Regions from separate parts of the Homo sapiens genome. Here region 1 is linked to region 2. Evidence: fine-mapped expression QTL. A gene starts in region 2. The other region holds a variant in brackets. All regions are shown on one strand. Distances are from middle to middle. Region 1 has its middle 6.3 kb from the start of ZNF706. Region 2 holds the start of ZNNT1 (ZNF706 neighboring transcript 1).

Region 1 (2,927 bases), 42 kb after region 2:
CCAAGAGCAATGAGAACATACGTTCACACAAAAGTTTGTACATTTTAAGCAGCATTATTCATAATAGCCAAAAAGTAGAAACAACCCAAATATTCAGCAGGTGATGAACTGAGAAACTGTGGTATGGCCATAAAATGAAATATTATTTGGCCATAAAAAGGAATGAGGTTCTGATACATGCCTCAACTTGGATGAACCTTGAAAACGTTATGCTAAGTGAAAGGAGGTCCTTCCTTGAGCCCCCATCTGAATGAGGAGTCCTTGTACTTTTCATCCTTTGAATTTATCATGCAATATTATGTATTGTTTCATGAAATGTTTTACATATATATGTATATATAATGTATATGTGTATATATAATGTATATGTGTATATATATAAATTTGTAGAATTTCTCCTTTCCATTTGATTCCTAAAACAATAACCTGTAACACCTGTGCTGTACTTACTATCTACCAGGCACTGTTATATATGCTTTATATATTTTGATTCATTTAACCTTCTCAACAACTCTTATGTAGCTGAGGTACAAAATGGCTAAGTTATCTAAGATTACACAGCTAGTAAGTAGAAAAGCTAAGATTTGGCTCCTGGCAGTCTTTTTCCTGAGGCTGAGCCGTGGTCCTGTGTATACTATAAGGGTGGTTCTGTATCTGTTCTTTTTATCCCTGTGTAGCCTGTATTTAGCATAGCATCTGGCATGATGTAGGTACCCAATAAATATTTGTTGAATGAATGTAAGTCTGAATGATTCCTTTAAACTCGGTTAGGAGACCTCCTAGGTATCACAGATTATGATGTACTTCCCTAAAAATAGCACTTATCTCACTGTGTTGTACTTGCCTGTTTATCCATAGAAGATGAGCTCCCTCAGGTCCTGAGTTATGTCTTGTTAACCAGCATCTAGTACAGTGCCTGGCACCTAGCAGGTAGTTAATAAGTATCTGTAAATGGATGAAATAAGAGAGTGGATTGTGAATGAAATTACAAGTATCAGTGACAATCCGTGAGGCCAGTATTTGAAAATGATTACCCCTGCCATCCAGTTAAAGATAGAGGCTTGAACACATGCATTTACCTCTACCCTTTGTTGGAATCCCACTAAAAATAATGGTAAAGGAGTTTATAAGAAAGCATAAACTCCTTTACCATTGAAGAAAAGAAAACAGAAGAGAAGAATGTAGCAGAATTTTGGAAGCTGCAAAGTAAGTAAACAAGTGGTAACTGATTTAGGAGAGAAGAGGGTTTCTGGACTGAAGGGGCAGCAAGCATGAGTGGGGGTAGCAAAACAGAGGACTAAATGAAAATTTAAGTTGAATGTTGAGAGACACTTCACCATCTCAGCTCTGAGAATGGAAACAGACAATCTTATACCTCCAGCCAGAAAACTGAAAGAGTTTTCTTGGGGATTAGAACCCAACTCAATGGAAATACCT[A/G]AAGATACTGATACTTGGGATTGCCCAATAAGACAGCACAGCCAGGTAATCCTGCAACAAATCCCATGTTTGAAAAGTGGCACCTGCATGTATCAGTCTTCCAATCAGATGTCTAGTGCCCTGTTCTTAAATGTGAGCACACAGCCAAGGATAACCAAACATTTGAGGAAAACCTCTTATATGAAACACAGAGTCCCCAAAGTTGCAGAGAAAAAAGCAAGAGAAAACAAACTATGCTGGGAGAAGAAAACTTCAAGAGAACCATCAGAGGGACACGAACTCACAGAGATGATAACATGGTGTGTCCTGGAAGCTATTTTAAAATAAAGGAACAATGAGAGAAAACAACTACAAAAAAGATACTGGAAAAGTTTATCTCATCTGTCTGTCTGTCTGTCTGTCTATCTAACTACCTACCTACCTATCTGCTAGTAGAAATGGAAACTCAAGAAAGGGTGGAAGGTAAAATTAAGAAAATATCCTAGAAAGTTGGCTCTTGAACAACATGGGTTTGAACTGTGTGGGTGCACTTATACGTGGATTTCCTACTGCGTCTGCCATCCCTCAGACAACAAGATCAATCCCTGCTCTTTTTCCTCCATCTCAGCCTACTTAATATGAAGATCATGAGGATAAAAACCTTTATGATGATCCACTTTCACTTAATGAATATTAAATATATTTTCTCTTGCTTACGATTTTATTAATAATATTCTTTTCTCTAGTTTGCTGTATTGTAAAAAATAGTTGTATAACACATATACAAGATATATGTTCATTGAGTATGTACATTATTAGTAAGGCTTCAGGTCAATGGTAGGCTATTAGTAGTTAAGTTTCTGGGGAGTCAAAAGTTACATGTAGGTTTTTGACTTTGTGGGGAGATTGGTGCCCCTAATCCTTGTATCATTGATGGTTCAACTGTAGAATGAAAAGACAAAGAGTTAGAAAATATGAAAGAAAAGACAATAGAATTAAAGGGTAATTTCAGGAGACCCAATATTCAACTAATAGAAATTCCAGAACAGAAAAACTAAGAGGAAATTATTTTTTAAAGAGCTATTAATAACCGAATTGCCAGCTGAAGGCCCCCAAAGAGTGCTAGTACACTGGATGGGTAAAACCCACACCAAGGCACATCTAAATGAAATTTCAGAACACTAGCAATAAAGGGGATAGCCTATAAGCTTCCAGAGAGGAAAAAATAAATTAGTTTCATTGAAGAATTAAAAACCAGAATGTTACTGGTTTTCTCAACAGCAATATTGAAAATTAGAAAACAGTAGAGAAAGATATACAAGGTATCACACTATTTACCTCCTGGTCACCCTTCCTCACTGAACTTATTGAAGGATATGGGCCACCAAAGTGAGGGAGTAAAGGAAGTGGATGATGTGGGCTCCATCGCAAGAGAGAGATGAAGGAAATATGCAAGAAGAGAATGAAGGTCCCAAGATGGCAGCCCAGAGAAGCCTAAAGACTAACCAGTA
Region 2 (2,927 bases):
TAAATGTGTTGAATGAAGAAAGATGATTCTTCATTGTCTGTATACATGAATGAATTATAACAAAATTAGAAGCTAGTGATATTTGATTAAATAACCATATCTAAAAACTACTAGATAAGAGATTACTGTCAAGCTAGAGAATGAGGTGCCAAGTTGGCAAGCTACTGGTTTTTCTCCTGTTCAACATTTGTATCAACAACTTCAATGAACGATAGTCAATATACCCATTGTGCCTGTGGATAACACAACGGGAAGCCAAAAAAAAAAAAAAAAAACTAGATAAGAGAGTCAAAAATCAAAAAGATCTGTACAGACAAGAATAATGGATGAAAATTAAACATTAACAGAAAAGTTCTGAATATCAGTTCAAAAGTAGGCAAAGGGAAATAATGGAAGAGAAGTAGTTTAATTAAAGACTATGAAAAAGGCTTAAGGATTTTATTTGATTGGAAGTCTGGTATCAGTTAAGAATACAATGTGTTGGCCAAAAAATCCTAGTGCAATTCCAGGCTGAATACATTCATTCAGCAATGATTTATTGGGTGTCTACTAAGTGCTTGGTGTTGTGTGGAAAACAAGGATGAAGGTGTGGCCCCTGCTTTCGAGCAGCTTACAAAAGTGACATGTGTTCCTCCTAGACCACAAAGTAGAAAGCATTTGGTGCTGCAAAGTAAAAGAGACAGGAAAGGTCGGCACATGTATGATGAAGGGGAAGAGTGGGCTTGTGGAGAAGCACAAGGAATGATAAGGTAGGGAAGATATTTCAGTGCCAGTCTGTAGTAGGTCCTTAGTGCCAGGCCAAGAAGATTGGAAGTTATGTGAGGGGATGAGGAAATGAAAGATTTTGCAGCCAAAAAAAAAAAAAAAAAAGATGGTCAGTGTTTTAGGAAGATTTCTTTGGAAGCAGTCTGTTGGACAAATTGGAGTGGGGAGACACACACACAGAGGCTTATACTTGGCATCATTTCAAAGATTGATGTTCTTGTTCCTCATCTTCATTCTATAAGTGGAGAAAGTGAAGCTGAAGGTTTAAATGATGTCCCTAAAGACACAGAGCTGACAGGGGTATGCAGAAGCAGAATCCAGGATGGTGCTTCTGGGTCCAGTGGGTGATAAACCAATGGCAATTAGACCTTGCACAGTTGTTGGAGTTTAGAAAAACATTTCTGGAGGGACTTAAGGAAACCAGTTAAGAGATCATTTCCACAGGCAAAGTAAAAAATATTGAGCACTGAAAGTGGAAAGAGGGTCAGCTGGGGGAGAAACTGCTCTGATGCTGTGGGTTGAGAGGGAAGGAAGCAAGGCAAAGAGGACTTGGAGACAGAAGGACAGCAGTGGGATGAATGACCATGGGGAATACAAGGATGAAAAAGCAACTTGGAGGAGTACCATTTTGAGTGGGGCCAATTTTTTTTTTCTTTTTGAGACGGAGTTTCGCTCTTGTTGTCCAGGCTAGAGTGCAATGAAGCGATCTTGGCTCACCACAACCTCAGCTTCCCGGGCTCAAGCGATTCTCCTGCCTTAGCCTCCCAAGTAGGTGGGATTACAAGCACGTGCCACCATGTCTGCCTAATTTTGTATTTTTAGTAGAGATGGGGTTTCTTCATGTTGGTCAGGCTGGTCTTGAACTCCCCACCTCAGGTGATCCACCCGCCTCAGCCTCCCAAAGTGCCGGGATTACAGGCGTGAGCCACCGTGCCCAGCAACAGAGATTCTAGTGGGGCCCATTTTAACAGAAGGGGCACTGGAAATGAATGTGTCCAGAAGAAGGTAACTGGAAAGCAAATTGCAGGAATGAGAGAAGGAACTGCTTAGTCTGGGAAAGCCTAAGTTATTTGCAGAATTGAATTGAAAAGATTTCCGGGGAGAACAGATAGCTAGCATCCTACATCTGTAGAGCTTTTACAGAACAATGTTAAGTTGCCTCCTAACGAGCTTTAGCATGGCACCAGTGGAAGGCACTGTTAGATGGCAGCAATGCAGAGTTGTGGAAAGGCCAAGGGGCAGAAGATTTGAGGCAGATCAGCTCCTATCTGTGAAGCAGTATAGTGGGAGGAGCACAGACTTTGGAGTCACACAGACCTGGGTTCTAGTCCCAGCCTACCTCTACCAGCTATGTGACCTTGGGGAAGTTGCTGAACCTCTTTGTGCCTCAGTTTCCATATGTACAAAATAAAGAGGCTAGATTGGAAGACTTCCAAGATCTTGTCTAGCTATAAAATTCCTTGGTTCTAAAAAGGTGGCTTATGTGCATAAAATAAATAGATGGAAATACAGTATTATCTTCTTTGGATTTTGCTCTCAAATCTGTACTAATATTGGTTATCAAGTATGCACAGCCAGCCTGCTTCTGTTGCACTGCATGATGGCATGTAATGATGGAACAGAGCTGACATGTTCACAAAAGCACTTTTCTCTGTGGGTAGGAGTGGAAAATAGTTCCATTTAGCTGATATCACTAATTTTTAAAGAAAACCATATGAGCTAAAGAGAACTGAAGATGAATGTGGGAGCTATGAGTCAACCACTGAATCTCAGCTGCATTAATTTTACATTATAAATGACACAGTTTTAAAGTTTCTTAGATTTTATAATAGTTGAAATTTTTCTTTAAAAGAGTACACCCTATACATGCCGATACACGTTAAAAAGATTGAACATTTCTTCCCATTCTAAAGCATCTTGAAAACAATGACTGTGCTGTTAGCGATTTTTAATATAAAATACATTTCCTAGCAGTGTTATAAACCGCTAACAGCACTTTTTGTGAAAATTGGCTACTTCATACAAAAAAAACCTCACAGTTTTTGTTATCTTTGTAGGATTTTCTTCCCCCTTTTTGAATTGTTTTATAATGGATAATGTTGCTTAAAAACATCCAGCATTTCCATGAGAAATGAAATATTCAGAAGACTTCTGGATAAGTG

What was found. PIP is the estimated chance that this variant, and not a neighbour inherited with it, causes the effect.
Region 1: its variant is the best candidate, but not a certain one, in a credible set for the expression of ZNNT1 in whole blood (TOPMed, PIP 0.72).

The regions. Positions count from the first base shown.
Region 1 is chr8:101,210,495-101,213,421 of GRCh38, forward strand. No RefSeq gene overlaps it. Among named protein-coding and RNA genes, the nearest start is that of ZNF706, 6.3 kb to the left of the region's middle. The variant A/G (reference allele first, on the strand shown) is at 1,438.
Region 2 is chr8:101,168,642-101,171,568 of GRCh38, forward strand. ZNNT1 (ZNF706 neighboring transcript 1) reads right to left here and starts at 1,598. Exons shown (of 1, transcript NR_164368.1): 1 at 1-1,598.